2 separate regions of the Homo sapiens genome follow, and region 2 is linked to region 1. Evidence: fine-mapped expression QTL. Tissue or cell type: monocytes after LPS. Region 1 holds a variant in brackets; the other region holds the start of a gene. All regions are shown on one strand. Distances are from middle to middle.

The links. PIP is the estimated chance that this variant, and not a neighbour inherited with it, causes the effect.
Region 2: PCBD1 starts here. The variant in region 1 is fine-mapped to the expression of PCBD1 in monocytes after LPS (Fairfax 2014, PIP 0.95).

The regions. Positions count from the first base shown.
Region 1 is chr10:70,838,569-70,846,672 of GRCh38, forward strand. It overlaps SGPL1 (sphingosine-1-phosphate lyase 1), which reads left to right. Exons shown (of 15, transcript NM_003901.4): 3 at 5,905-6,070. Among named protein-coding and RNA genes, the nearest start is that of SGPL1, 27 kb to the left of the region's middle. The variant T/C (reference allele first, on the strand shown) is at 4,566.
Region 2 is chr10:70,884,112-70,892,215 of GRCh38, forward strand. PCBD1 (pterin-4 alpha-carbinolamine dehydratase 1) reads right to left here and starts at 4,454. Exons shown (of 4, transcript NM_000281.4): 1 at 4,420-4,454; 2 at 1,687-1,818; 3 at 1,041-1,121. The coding sequence starts at 4,422. RefSeq lists silencers at 3,711-3,990, 4,321-4,570.

The DNA of each region.
Region 1 (8,104 bases):
AGCACTGAGATTGTGTAGAGTGGAAAATAACATTAGTGTTAGCTCCCTCACTGTATTACACAACCACATTCTAAATTTAAGGAAGCCAGAAGTAAAATCACTCTGAAGCACTGCTTTTGAAACTGCAGATTATGATCCATTTAGAGGGACACAAAATCAGTTTAGTATATCAAGCGTTAAAGAAGGAAGAAATAGAAATGTGAGTACATTACAAGTAATAAGGTGCTAAGTATTATTTTGGAAACTTTTGGTTTTATATGTTTCTGTTTCTACATGTATTAGATTGTGTTGTAAAAGACATTTCTTTGGGACTGTATTTTACAACACAGTCTCATACACGTAGACTCTAATACACATATTGAAACAGTTTGAAACTCAGTGGTCTAACAAGTAGCATACCCCAAATTTACAATATTTGTAGCCTTCTGCTGTTGGGTACATTCATGAAAAGGTCTTGCATCCTTAAAGTGAAGGCTGAAAGAGTTTTATGTCATTGGGGCGAGTGGGCTACCAAGCTCCCATAAATTCTAGGAGCTGCCTTTTGTCTAACGATTAGGATTATTGAGTACTATTTTGATGCCTTTTGGGTATCATCTGAAATGTAATCATTGAATTGGAAATGGAATAAACAAGAGAAAGGCTAGTTTACTCATTATTTGACAATAGCTCTTTAAAGTAGTTAATATTATGAATATTCCTACTACTAAGGTTTATAAGAGTTTGTTTTTTTCTTTAATGTTATACTTTAAAAAGTATTATTCATTCACTGGGCAAATAATTTTTTTTTCTAGAGGAATACCTTTCCAATTTTATAACAGTGAAGGAAGGAATGTTTTACTTATAGAAACTGTACTGAAACTACTGTTCTATTAAGCAAGGGTTGGAGATAAGCACCCCTGTCCCCCTTCCCTGCCCAGGCACACACATATACAGATACAGCTTATTTTATGACTGTATTGTTCTTGTGTTTCTTCTTCTAGATAAAGACATAAAGATTGATGAAATAATTTACCTGGAGTTGCACAGTAAGCTAGTGGCCTTTGTGGATGACCATTCATAGTTCATATATTTCCAGAGACACAATACATTGATAAAATTGAAATAAACAGAAGCCTAAGAATTATAAGTATATATTCAGAGATATATAGACAAAAAAGTACTGTTATAAGTAAAAAGACATAGTGGGAATAGTAATTATAATCACATGAACTTCTGTGCCATCTCTATCTAGATCAGGGGTGTCCAGTCTTTTGGCTGTCCTGGGCCACATTGGAAGAAGAATAATTGTCTTGGGCCACACATAAAATATACTAATGATAGCTGATGAGCTTAAAAAAAAATAAAAATTGCAAAAAAAAAAAGTCTCATGATGTTTTAAGAAAGTTTACAAATTTGTTTTGGGCTACATTCAGAGCTGTCCTGGACTGCATGTTGGACAAGGTTGATCTAGATGTTTATCTGTAGTCATGACCTAACTATATAATTTTAGTATGTTATACATGGTACCATGTATCCAGGGTAGATCCTGCCAAGAACATAAATTGTGAAAAGAAAACTCTTGGGATGCTGCTGGATTGTAATGTGTTACTCCTCTGCCCATGAATACTGAAAATCAAGATTTGAAAGGGTACTGAATACTGAGTCAAAAGGCATGCGTTCCTAGACTTCACTTAATCACAAGCATGTCTGTATGAGCGTAGTCATGTCATTTCACTTTGGGGTCTCTGCTTGTAAAATGAAAATGTTAGACTTGATCTTCCAGGTTCCCTTCAGCTCTTACATTCTGTGCTTCCCAAGGGCTAGAGTATTGCATCAGGACCCAGCCTGGGGTTTGTGCTGTTTTCAAGGTCCTAAGGAACTGCATCATCCTTTAGTCCAAGGAGATAGGATACCTTATGCCACAGAGCCCAATAATTCAGTGAGCTGTGAGTGTTGTGAGTTGCATCTACATTGGGGACTGAGCCTAGGTTGTTTGTAGTAACACTAGGAGGACCTTAGAATGATGCCAGGAGATGTAATTTCTGTGATCAACTAGTTGACTACTCAAAAAGCTTGTCAGGACCCATCCAACTACAGTGTCATTCTGTCTTTGGTGTTAAAGAATTTAGATTTATCTCCTTTTAAAGGACCTCCTTTGAATTTAAGAATTGCCATTATCTTCATAAGAATCAAAACAAATACAAAGAAAATATATTCTTGCTGAATGTAATTTTTAAATGTTAGTGAGGAATGTCTTTATATCTTAATTTTAAGGCTTTTAAAAATTAGTTTGCATTTGCTGGTTCTTTGCTGTCACCCTAATACTGGTTATGTTACTTTTTTGCTCAGTGCTGTGAATTGTTCATAATATCTATAGTCATCTTTTGACATTGGTAACTTCTGTTTTCTGGGTGAATTAGGAATTAGTATCACCAGAAGAAAAGCTAATCTGAATAATTGTTCTTTCATCATCTCGTTCATGCACAGTATTTAACCATCTGGTTTGACCACAACTTTCACACTAGACGAGTCTTTATAATGATAGAAATCATGACATACTTTTGATGATAGACTCCTCTGGTCTTTCCCAGGTTTTGGCTGGTATTGCCATTGCTTTGGATTGAGGTTGTTGATGCAACAGTGGGCTCTGGGGAATGGCCACCAAGAACTGTTGGGGAATTGCAGATAAACTGTCTCCATGGGTAGCCCTCCAGGGAACTTAGTAGTTGTCTAATGTTAATTACCTTATACCACAGTCTAATTACTAAGAGTATTGTCTGAGTCCATTCAGGCTGCTATAACAAAATGCCATAAACGTGGTGGCATATAAACAAAAGTCCATTTCTCTCAGTTCTGGAGGCCAGGAAGCCCAAGAGCAAGGCAACAGCAGATATGGTGCCTGATGAGGCCCACTTCCTGGAAGGTGGCCTTCATAAAAGTGGTTCATAGAAAATGTCTTCTCACTGTATCTTCACATGGTAGAAGGGGCAAATTTGCTCTCTGGGGGTCTCTTTTATAAAGTCACTAATCTTATTCACGAGGCCTCTGCCTTCATGATCTAATGACCCCCCAAAGGCTCCCTCTTCCTCCTACCATCAGCTTGAGGGTTAGATTTCAACATATGAATTTTTGGGGGATGTAAACATTCAGTCCATTGCAGGTATAAATGTTTTCAACAAGCATTTGTTGAGTATCTGTCCTTTTTCTAAGCTTTCATGTTCCTACTAGAACACTGGATGTGGATATCCAATAGGAATATATTTAAGTCAGTATCATTATCTTTTTCTCAAAACATCTTCTACCTTTTTTACCTTCCCTTCCTCTTCTAGTCTTACCATAGTTAATACTGATATTAACTGTTAACATCATAGTTAACCAGTCTGTCGAACTTGAACTTGAAAATTTTGAATGATCTATACCCACACCCGAAAAAATTACTCACATACTTAAAAATCCATGCCTTTTGTTTTGTTTTATTGCTGTTGTTTGTAATTTACTTATTTTTACCTGATACTATGTTCTGGAAATTTTTCTACGTAGTTCATGTAGATCTGTCTTCTTCTTAATGTTTCATGGTATGGGTACATAAAATGCACGTATTATAGTTTATTTAACCATTCTTCTGTGGGTGGACATTTACATTATTTTTTCCCTTTTGTTAGAGAATACTGAAATGAATATCCTTGAACATGTTTATTTGTATACATGTGCAAAGTATGCAGATGCCAAAAAGTGAGATTGCTAGGTCAAAACGAACATGCGTTTAAAATGTTGATAGATACCAACAAATTGCTTTACAAAAGTTCCTATCAGTTTGTATATCAGTTTTTCTAAGTCCTTTTTAAACATGGACTGGATTAGCCCGTTCTTGCATTGTTGTTAAGAAATACCTGAGTCTGGGTAATTTATAAAGAAAAGAGGGTTAATTGGCTCATGGTTCTGCATATTTGTACAAACATGGCTTCAACATCTGCTTCCGGTGAGACCTCAGGAAGCTTACAATCATGGCGGAAGGCAAAACTTGAGCAGGCACGTCACATGGCAAGAGTGAGAGCAAGAAAGAGAGTGGGGGGAGGTCCTAGGCTTATAAACAACCGGATCTCACCTGAACTAACTGAGCAAGAACTCATTCATGAAAGATGCACCCCCGTGATCCAGTCATCTCCCACCAGACCTCATCTCCAATGTCGGGAATCACATTTCAACATGAGATTTGGAGGATAGGCATCCAAACCATATCATGGACCTAGCATACTTCTCCCAGCCTCACGTCTCTGATTTAAGTGTTCACTCATTTACTTGGGCACTGTTACTTGGGCACTGTCAGCCCCTGTCCATGTTTGTATTCAGTATAAATTGTGTGCCGGGCACTCTGCCACATGTTGGGGATTTAGTACTGGATGAGACAGAAATGGTCCCTGCCATCATGTAGCTTACACTTTGCCACATAGAACTTTTGCCATATGCAGACTCTTTTTATGCATTTGCAGCTACTATCCTCTCTTTCTGGTATGACTTTTTTCCTTTTAACTTTTCTACCTAGAGAATTTTCTTTCATCCTTTTAACCAGCTTAAATTTTGCCCTC[T/C]GTCATTATCTTTATCCCTTCAGAGTTAGATAGTCCTTCCTCAGTGCTCCATCTTGGCACTCATATGCTTTTTGTGGCTATTCCCCTGAGAAGTTTTCGTGATTTGTTTGTATATGTATGTGCCTGTGTGTGTGTGTGTGTGTGGACACACATCTACATCTTGCATATTAGATTGTAAACTCAGTATAGACTTGGAACTATGATATGTACCTGAACACTTCCCCAGCTTACTGCCTTCAACCCTGGAGATGCTTAATCAATGTTGATTAAGTGAATGAATAGTAAACTATAAAATGACCTTAGTTTGTACAGGGCATTGTAGGGGATTGTAGATATGAATAGAACTGGTCTGTCTTCAAGAACTTAACCATATAGTCAGGGAGATAAGAAACAGATGAGTAGACTGCAAGGCAGGTTGTGATAAGCTCTGTATAGGACTTATCAAAAATGAGTACTGGAGGAGAATTTAAAGGGAGAGAGGAATTCTCGTGAATGAGATACTCTGGTAAGTTTACAGAGGACAGGTTTTTTCTTGCTCGTACCAGGTGTTGTGAGGAATACACATGATGGTAAGATATGGTTGCTGACTGAGAGATTATAGTCAAGTAAGGCCTTAGAGCAGGCATTGGTAAATTGTGGCCTGCAAGCCAAATCTGGCTCTTGCCTGCTTTTATATGGTCCTTGTGCTAAGAATGATTTTTACATTTTAAAAATTGTTAAAGAATATTTTATGAACATGAAAATTATATGAAATTCAAGTTTTGGTGTCTGTAATTACATTGTGTTGGAACACAGCCATGTTCCTTTGTTTACACAATAACTGACTATATTTGTACTCCAGCAGCAGAGAGGAGTAGTTGTAAAGGAGAATGTTTGCTTTGCAACACTTAAAATATAAAATAATTTAGTATCAAGCTCATTACAGAACCAGTTTGCTGACTACTGGGGTAGAGAATAGGAAAGATTCAAATAGAGAAGAGAAATGACATTGATATTGGGGGTATTAGTGTGAGTTAAGAGAGTGGGACAGTGATTCTAGCAGTCATATAGAAATTTTAGGGCTGAAGTGACGATCTAGCTTAACCCTCTTACTGTATAAAATAGGCACAAGATTGAAAATAGTCTCAAAGTCCACTAGCTGTTAAGTGGCAGTGGAGTGCTGCTGGAGTGACTGGTACAGAAGCCTTGAGGGCTGTAGATGATAATAAGATTATTGCTGAAGAAGGGCAAGATCCGGAATGACCTTGCCCTTGAAAAATGAGAGTTGAAGTACAAACTAAGAACAGACTTCTTTTCTCTCTCTAAATGTAATGTTTTTATTTTTCACTTGTATTTCTAGAAGGCCTTTGAGCCCTACTTAGAGATTTTGGAAGTATACTCCACAAAAGCCAAGAATTATGTAAATGGACATTGCACCAAGTATGAGCCCTGGCAGCTAATTGCATGGAGTGTCGTGTGGACCCTGCTGATAGTCTGGGGATATGAGTTTGTCTTCCAGCCAGAGAGTAAGTATGCTGTCTCCTCTGTAAAGGTATAGTGGTGTGTCACTAGCCTCAAACTAATTGCTGAGAGATAGGACTAATTTATTGCCTTTTGGTTGTTTTTTTGTTTGTTTGTTTGTTTTTGAGACGGAGTCTCCATCTGTTGCTAGGCTGGAGTGCACTGGCCTGATCTTGGCTCACTGCAACCTCTGCCTCCCAGGTTCAAGTGATTCTCCTACCTCGGCCTCCCGAGTAGCTGGGACTACAGGCACACGCCACCACGCCCAGCTAATTTTTGTATTTTTAGTGGAGATGGGGTTTCACCATGTTGGTCAGGATGGTCTTGATCTCTTGACCTCGTGATCCACCCACCTCGGCCTCCCAAAGTGCTGGGATTACAAGCGTGAGCCACCGTGCCCGGCCCTGGTTTGGTTCTTATTTTTAAAATCTGTTTAAATGTAAAGCAGTACTTTGTCTTCTGATTGGTCAAGTTATAACAGGACTCTTGTATAACTAATACTCCTTACATTGATTTTTTTTGGATTTGTAGTTCACGTAAAAACGCCTCAGAATTAGTCATTGTAAGGATCCACAGAAATCTCAGTATGGTTTAAACCTTTGGTACCAGTTTCTTCCCTAGAACATAATTATGTCACCTGGAGTTCCCAGAGCAGGAATTTATTGCTTTCATTTTGTGCTATCCTTTTCAGTAAAGATTAGGTGAAATTGGAACAGCACTTACATGGTGACCATTTGAGTGCTTGCTATGTGCCAGGCACTGCCATCAGGCTGTGGGGATATCTGCACAAGTAGTACAGGATCTCTCTCCTCTTGGAGTTGAACTGGTATCAGGGGATCGTATACTTTGAGCTTCCTAGAAGTGACTCAGTGCCAGATCAACATGGGGAAGAAGAGGCCACTTCTCAGGGTGCAGAAGATGAGCAGTCTCAGTGATCTGCTTCTGAATCTTCCACCTTTGCTTAGGATTAAGCCCCTCTCCTGCCCACCCACCTTTTTCCCGCCTAGAAACCTGGTTGTGTGTTACCTTCTTATGAGTTATTTTCCTCTGCAGTCTGTGCTTGGTGAGTGTTGTTAGTACCTAAACACAAGTAGTGGATTTGGTGCTGGATGTTCTATAACACTCCCCTGCACCTTTTCCCCACTCTTAGTAGGGTATGGGAGTTAACTTCCTTGGGATAAGAAAACAGTAACATTGAAGATAATCATTAGCTGTTTCTCATTTGCTTGAAATTTCCCCACCACTTTGCTTCCCTGATAACACCTGTTTAAAAGGGCTCTTTAATGTGTTTTTTCTGCTTTTCTTCTCTTGTTCAAGGAAAGTCAATTTAGAAGCCAGATTCCATTTTTATCTCTTTACCCTGCAAATAGCTTCTTAGCCATTTATGGCGCAGTAAACATTGCAAAACCTGACAACCAAGAAGCAAGTTCCAACTGCTTAGAGTTTTTAAATTAAAGTGGAAATGAGACCTGACTCTCCTGTGTAAATCTGTAGCTCACTCCAGCTTTAAAAACCTTGTCCTCAGTTGCTGCTCCTAGTCCTTGCAAGATTTTCTGATAAACTCTAAGAAATTAGACTGGCCGGCCCTTCCGCTGCATCTGCTCAATGGTTTGGATATGGATGTAGCTTGTGTCCTTCTGCTCTTGCTTATTCCTTTCCTAGGAAGTATTCAATTCAGTGAGTAAGGGGCCCATTTCAGAGGATTCTGAGGGGTAGCAAGAAATATACTTTCTTTTTATTTTTTAACTTTTCATTAAAAAAAAAATCAGTCTCTGCTTATCCTTCTATTATAATAAAATATATACAACATAAAATTTACCACTTTAACCATTTTTAAGTGTACAGTTAGTCCTGTGGCAGTAAGTACGTTCACATTATTGTACAGGCATCACTATTACCAGAACTTTTTCATCACCCCACTGGAACTCCATTTTAATAAACATCAAATAATAACTGCCCATTACTCTCTCCCGCATCCCCTGGAAACCACCATTTATTGTATCGCCTTGTTTTACAAATGTACTACAATTCAAAGGTGG
Region 2 (8,104 bases), 46 kb after region 1:
CTGCTGGGCTCAGCCCTGCTAGGAGCTCCAGAATAGCAGCTGGCCAGTACGATCTCTCCTGGGGACTCCTTCCTGACATGTCTGTAACAACATCTTCTACATCTCCCCTTTGCTGTCTCTCAAAAATAATCATGACTTCAGCTATAGAATAAAAGCTTAATATCTGAATGTCAAGAGCAACCTAAAAGCTAAAGACAAAACCAAAAACCAATGCCAACTCCTAAACACTATCCATTCATAGACGACCTCTTCCACCCTTACTGTTTTTATAAACAGAGACCAGCAGAGCTTTTGGCACATGGTAGACATTTAATGACTGTTTCTATTCATTAAGCAAATAATTTGATAGGTTGGCTATGTGTCTGTATTTTTTTTTTTTTTTTTTTTTGAGACGGAGTCTTGCTCTGTCTCCCAGGCTGGAGTGCAGTGGCTCAATCTCTGCTCACTGCAAGCTCCGCCTCCCGGGTTCCCACCATTCTCCTGCCTCAGCCTCCCCAGTAGCTGGGACTACAGGCGTCCACCACCGCGCCCGCCTAATTTTTTTGTGTTTTTAGTAGAGACAGGGTTTCACCATGTTAGCCAGGAGGGTCTTGATCTCCTGACCTCGTGATCTGCCCACCTCGGCCTCCCAAATATGTGTGTATTCTTAGTTCAAGTTTATTACTTTTTCATTCTTCCATACCTCCAGCAAGATTAAAGCCATTTAGAGCTATGAACACTGAATAAGTATGCCTGATTCCCACAGCCTTTCCTTTCTTGGGTTTTGCCTTCTTAATGTCTACTTAAATGTCTACTTTAACCACAACTATCTCATGCATCTTTTAATTTGCATTTCTTTATAGTAAGACTGATTTTTTTTTCCCAGGGGTATTTATGTTGATTCTAGGCATGTGCAATCTCAGTGAGATTGGAAATGAGATGAGTGGATGACCTATGGGTCAGGAAGGCTCATTGTTAAGTCCAAAAGCCTTCAGAATGTGTCAGAGTTCGCAGTATTTGGATGGGGGCAGAGCACAACAGAGGCACACAGCATCACTCACCTTGTTGTACACGTTAAACCATTCAGGATGGTGGTCCAGTTTCTCAGCCTGCAGGGCCACTCTTGTCATGAACCCAAAGGCCTATTTAAGTGGAGTGAGAGCCAGGTTAGTGTTCTAAGAGAAAGGACTTCTGGACATCACCAATTCAAGGCCTAGACGCAGGAGGATGAATTAGCTTCCCCCCAGGAGACTCCTCTATAATCATTTCCCCCTTGACATCCTGTCACTGGTTCTCAGGCTTGAGTTAGAGATTGTCCTTGCAGTAGGAAGAAAGTCTTGCTATTTAGGATGTCAACAAGGTGGAAACACCACAACAGGCTTTTGGCCTGGCCAGTCTTGGCCGTCTGTTCAAATGTCTTCAGATGTGCATGGTTTCCACTTGAACTATCTCCTCAGAAGACTGCTGCTAAAAGTTCCAGGAAGGGAGAGCCCAAGACACATCCTCCTATGGCTCTCCAATCCCCAAAGATGATACTTTCTGAGTTAGACAGGAAAATTAATTTCCCCACTGGCACAGTGCCCAAATAACTGGATGAGTGTGGTGTCTGAGAGTCTTGGCTAACAAGACGTGAAGGGAGAGAACATGCTTTGTAAGGTGACCCCATCAGCCCGTCTCAGAAAACTCTGTCCCACCCTGGTGCCATACCCTGTTGAAGTCTTTGAAATGAAACTGCTTGAAGATGGCATCACGGCCTTCCAGCTCATTCCACCCCACAGCCCTCAGGTTTGGCAGCAGCTGGTCCCTCTCCTCAGCGCTCAGCCTGTGTGCTTTGCCAGCCTAGAAGAGGGAAAAAAACAGAGGCCCAAGGGCATTTCTCTTTATAGGTCAAAACAGAGGGGCTCCAACCTTTAGGGGAACTTAGCTTCCACTGGCTGCTTTGGACGTGGGTGACCAAAGGGCAGCAGGTCTTTGAGCAATAGGCTGGGAGGCCTCAAGGGTGGCACCCTGCCCAGGAGGTGGGGTCCAGGCTCGTCTGCCGATAGGCCCTCAGGTCTTGGGTTTTAACACTCCACACACACACAAGGGAAATCACAAAAGCAATGTAATTCATATGACGGGGACAGAGAAGCACTCTTCCCCCACCCTGCCCTCAAAGCCTTACGGACCTTCCCTCCATGAGATTATTACATCAGTGAGGGCGTAAAAGCAAAATAAATCCCAGATGCAAATATGTTACTCCACAACCTCTCAGGAAGAGTACCCATGACTCTCCCCCCTTCCTTTTCCTATTATGTACTTCATCATATGCACCCCACGTCCCTACCGTAACTTTCACGTGTATTGAAGAGGAAACAGGCCTAGAGAGGGGAAACGACTTGTCTGCTGTTCTTTCCCGCCCACCCCTAGCCAGTGATGGCGCAGTGTTGTCTGTGTGTCAGCATTGCTGGGGCTGGACGAAGGAGCTACATTTAAAATAAGTGTCCATCCCATTCTTAGCCACACTGCAGCTGACCGCCGTTGGCACTACCTCTAGTAGGTCCTCAGTCATGCTCCCAGGCAGCCTCTGGTCCTGAGCCGCCAGGGCTAGGTTTCTCTGGTTTTCCGTCTGCTTTTCTGGCTGGTTGGGAAGCTCAGGCCAAAGTGGAAGGAACTTGGCCAAAGGCAGCTGGCAAACCTAGTGCCCCATCCTATTTACCTAATGTGCGAAGTGCCCTCAAGGCAGCCCAAATTGGCACAATTCAGGCCATGAGTGGAACCTCAGAGAAAGCAAGGAAGCAAGGGTCAGTTTCATCCTAGGAGGATCCAGGTCTAGGAGCTTAACAGATCCCAGAACCTAGGCTTCTAGAGTAGCACCACCCCAGGGCAGAAATAGAGTGCTGAATTGAAAAGATACCCTTAGGGGTGGGGAGGGAATGTGAGGGAGGTTGATTTAGCTTTTATGAGGCAGCCTGCAGACTGGACACCATGTGTTGATTGGCAGGAGTTTTGAGACCCGCTTTCACCATTTACCAGCCAGGTGGCTGTACCTCTCTTGGCAGAACCTCCACCTCCACAGATCATCATGAGGTGCCAATGGGACACTTTAGGAAACTCCACTGCTATAAAGCAAATGTCATCTGCATTACAAAAAAAAAACTTCCTAAGGCAAGCAGGCTTGTGATGGGCCTGGTAGCATTTGGGGTAGCTGAAGCATCGCAGTGCTTTCCTAAGTCCGTCTTTTTTCCCTGCTGTTTTCCCTCCTGAAAACGTGAGCTCTCTCTGGACTGATGTAGCTTGGCCCCTCTCTTCCCCTCGGCTCTGGATGACTATAGGGATTGAATGGCAGCAGCGATTTGCATCATCTGCCCAGTAGGTAGGTCTCTACTCCAGAGCTGGCCTTCTCCCCGTGGCTGACCGCCTGGTCCGTGTATCTAGACAACCAGAAGTCAGCCAAAGCATCAGAGCCCACTGTTTACTTCCTTGGCTCTTAAAGGGGTGGGTGAGTCCAGGTGAGCTCTTAGGAGGCTTCCCTTTCTCGGTAGAGCCTTCTGGAACCCCCCAGGTCGCACAGCCTGCGGCTGAACTGACAAACCTTCCAGGTGCCGGCTCTGGAGACAGAGAGGGGGACGCTGCCCCGTTTGCCTCCTCTGGCGAGGTGTGGGGAGTGGTTACCGATTTCCCAAGCCTGCATCTCTGGGACCTCAGCGCCCCTCACAAACAGCCCCACTCATCCTCCCTCCCCCAAGTCCCTCTCCTATCAAAAGGCCCTCCCAGTCTTGCCTGCTCCGAAGGCCTGTGGACCAGAAATGGTCTGATGAAGCTCGCGAGCTTACAGCAGAGCAAGGGCCCCGCCCCCGCCCCCGCCCCGGGGGTGGGTGGGGGAAGCTCACGGGAGGAGGGCTGCTCCAGCGCCACCAAGCCCCCGTGGCCTGGCACGGGCCTCAAGCCGGCGCGGGGAGTGGCTCTGGGGCCAGCATACCGGCGCAGAGCGTGAGTCCCAGGCAGACCCCGTACCCAGAGTGCCAGCGGGAAGGGGCAGCGGACAGGCACGCACACGAGCGCGCAAACTCAGCCTCCCTCTCGCTCCCACCCCAGTATAAAGCAGAATCGGGCCACCAAGGGGACGAGATCCGTGGACTCCTCCACGACTGTCTTCCCCGGCCCAGGAAGGTCGTAGGCCCCGCCCCCGGAAGGGTCCCGGAACAAGCACTGGCCGGGGTCAGGGCAGGCCTGGCCTCCCAACTGGGTGGGATTCGAACCCGCCACCGCCCCTCTCAGGGCTTCAGCTTCCCCTCCCCGCCGCCAGCGACAGAGAGCCGGGCAGAGACCCCACTTTCGGACCCCGGCGGCTCCGCAGGGGACTCGAAAAGACTTTCCCCCGCCCCTTCCCGCTCCCACCTCGCCCGCGGCTGCCCCGGCCCCGCTGCCCCGATCGCGGCCGCGCACCCCTGGACTCACCATGGCGCGGGCGGCAGCAGGTGGCCAGCGGAGAGGGCAGGCGGCGGCCGGGCGCGCAGGCTGCCGTCCCGGGGCGGGGCCGCGCTCGGGCCGCCCTCCGGTAATGATTAACGTCCCCAGCCAGGGACGCGCTCGGCCTGCTTGCTTCCAGCACTTTCCTCGCTGCTCAGAGCCATCCTCCGTGCTTGTTTCAGGGAGCTAGGGTGAAGCATGAGGGCTCCAAATGCCCGCTTCTGGGTTGGAATCCCACCCCGCCGCTTACAGCTGGGTGGCCCTGGGCGCCAGAATACCTATTTTTTTCTTTATAAAAATCTCTTATTTGGATATAATTGACATGCAATAAATTGCACATATTCAACGTGTACAATTTGATAAATTTTAATGTTTCCCTCGTGAGACCATCACCGAGATCAACATTATGAACATATCATCATCCCTGCAAGTTTTCCCTTGCCCTTTGGTAACCCCTTCCTCCCGAAACCACCTGGCCAGGCAAGCACTGATGTACTTTAGGTCACTATAAATTAGTTTGCATTTTCTAGAATTTTATGTAAATGGACCATAGAGTATATACTAGGCAGGATAACTGTTTTGGGGTTCAGCCATGTTGTTGCCTATATCAATGGTTTCTTCCTTTTATGGCTAAGTAAAATTTATTTTATAGTATTGCATTGTACAGATAGACTACAATTTGTTTAGCGATTCACTATTGGACATTTGCGTTGTTTACCTTTTGGCTATTACAAATAAAGCTGCTGCGAATATGGTGCACAAATCTTCGAAAGTACGTATGTTTTAATTTTCCTTGAGTAAACACTTAGGAATGGAATGCCTGGGTCATGTGGTAGGTGGACTTTTATAACTTATTAGGAAACTGCCATACTGTTTTGCAAAATGGTTGTATCATTTTATATTCCTAGCAGCAGTGTATGAAGGTTGCAGTTCTCTGTCCTCACCAACACTTGATATAGTCAGCCTTTTAAATTTTAATTGGTGTGTAGCAGTATCTCATTGTGGTTTTGAGTTTCCTTGATTAGTAATTGTATTGAATGTCTTTTCATGTACTTATTTGCTAAGGATAAGTTTTTTTTATTGAATAGCATGTTTGAATTTCCTGCCCATTAAAAAAGAAATTGGGTTGTCTTCTTATCGAGTTTTGAGGGTGTTTTATTCTGGATATAAGGACATGATCAGGCAGTGATTTGCAAATATTTTCTTTGCATTATCTTATGGTGCCTTTCAAAGAGCAAACGTTCTTAATTTTGATGAAATCCAATATATCAAATGTTTCTTTTATGGATTTCTATTTTGATGTTGTACACATAGAAATCTTGGCCTAACCCAAGATCAAAAGTTTTCTCCTATGTTTTATAGCTTTTGGTTTTACATTTAGTCTGTGATCCACTTTGAGTAAATATTTTTATATGCTTCAAGTTATAGATCCAGATGCACTTTTGCACATGGCGACTCAGTTATTCCTTTCTCCACTGAGTTGTCTTTGCACCTTTGTAAAATATCAATTGACTGTATACATGTGGGTTTATTTCTGAGCCCTTTCTTCTGTTCCATTGATCTGTTTGTCTGTCATGACAGAACACTACCTTGTCTTGATTATTATAGCTTTATAATAAGTCTTAGAGTCAGATTAGAAAAGTCCTCTCACATTTCACATTTTTCTATTAACTTTTATTCTTGTGCTCCACTTTTATTCCCCGCCCCCCACCACCGCCCATAGCAGCCTCTCTAATGTGTTAATGTGTATTTTTGTTTGCACAGGTTCTTGCAAAATGTGTGGTGTTGTTTCGTCTATGTGTATTTTTAAATTTATGTAAATGGTATTATGTAAATATATTACATTTCTCAGTCTGTTTCTTACAAAACAGAGTATTTAGTGGAAAATTAAGATCTACCCATGTTGCTATATGTATATTCAATCTGTAGCTTTTAACTGCAGCCTAGTATTTTGTAATGAGAATCTGCCATGGGTTTCTTGTTCTATCAGTGATGGACACTCAGGTTCCCTTCAACTTTCTGCTGCTACCACCACCTCCCAAGCCCGTGAGCATGTGGGCACACAAACACATACGTACACAGAGTTAAACAACAATGCTGCTGCAGTGAACATCTCTAATTGCTCCCTGGGCTGTGGGCAGTTTCTTAGGCAACTTAAGTATATCCATACCCTATAAATCCAGCAATTCCCCCCATGGGTGTGTATCTCAAAATAGTTCTAGATGATGTCCAGGATGGGGACACCAGTCCTCATTCTCTCCTGCATGGTGTGAGGGGGTACTATTTCCATATGCATCTTACACATACATACTCACACTTCCCATTAGCCAGCTTTTTATTTTTTTGTCAGGCTAATAGCTATAAAATGAGAGCTTGTTGTGATGCAGGATTTTTCTTGACCCCTTTGCTGAGGTTGCAGCAGGGAGTGCCTTATCTACTCAGCTTGCCAGGCCCCATCTGGCTTGTGTTACAGCCCATGGCTCACAAGGCCACTGCGACTGTATGCTCAGCCCCTGGCGGGAGGGAGCATGTGACCGAGTGAATGCAGGGTCCAGCCAGCTGCACTGAGCCATGACACAGGAACAGGCTCTGTGTGGGGCCCACAGCCAGATCAGGTGTGTCACCCCAAGGAGACTGTGGCAGCACCCAGGCAGGGGTGCCTGAAGCCCCAGAGAGGGGTGTTACAGTGTGCTAAATAGCTCTTTTATCTCCACCATCTGCAGCCTGATGGACAGCGGCATGTTGGCAGCTCAGGCGGCCCCTTTCTCCACTCTGGCCCGTGGCTCCTGGACCAGCTTGGCCCTGCTGCAGCTTCTGTTCTGTGGGGCAGCTGCCCTCCACCAGTGAGGGTAGAGGGCCAGCGTTACAGCCTTTGTGGGTGCCCACATTTGGTGGGTCCTGAGCTCTTGTTCTGCATCCAAGAAGAATGAGGTCATGCTGACAGTTGAAGGGTGATGAGGATGGAGAATTTTATTGACGATGAAACAGCTCTCAGTGGAGAGGGATTGAGAAGGTGGGGTTGTCTATCTCAGTGTGGCTGAGTCTAGGGGGTTTTATAGGCACAGGATTGGGGAGGGGCGGGCTGTAGGTAGTATTAGAAAAGGCAACATTTGATTGGTTAAAAAGCATTATTCAGAAAGAACCAATCAGGAAAGGGTGGGCAAACAGGAACAGAAGTTCTCACCCTGGTTTGAGGGGTTTCATCCCAAACCAGCAGTCCAGGCTGTTTTTGGCTTGAAGGTGGGGTTTCACTGGGGACCCACCCCCATCTGCCTAGGAAATTGTCTGCCTCCTGCCGCTTTCAATTGTTTTACTCTACATTGTTTTCTGATGACTAATGATTTTGAGAACCTCTTCATATGCTTGTTACCATTTGGGGGTTACTATTTGTGAATTGCTTTTTAATATCCTTTGCCAATTTTTGAGAATTTTTAGTGCTCTCTTTTTTTAGTTGGTTTGTGGGTGTTTATATAAAATCTAGACATTAATTGCTTGTCAGTTTTGATATTGCAAATATCTCCTCTCATTCTGCCATCTGTATACTGACTTCTTGCATGAGATCCATGATGTCTGTGGGCAGAAATCTTATATTTTGGTGTAATAAGATTTATCTTTTTTCCCTCTGCCTTATAATTTTGTGCATTTGAAAATTTATTTGATAAGTCCTCTCCCC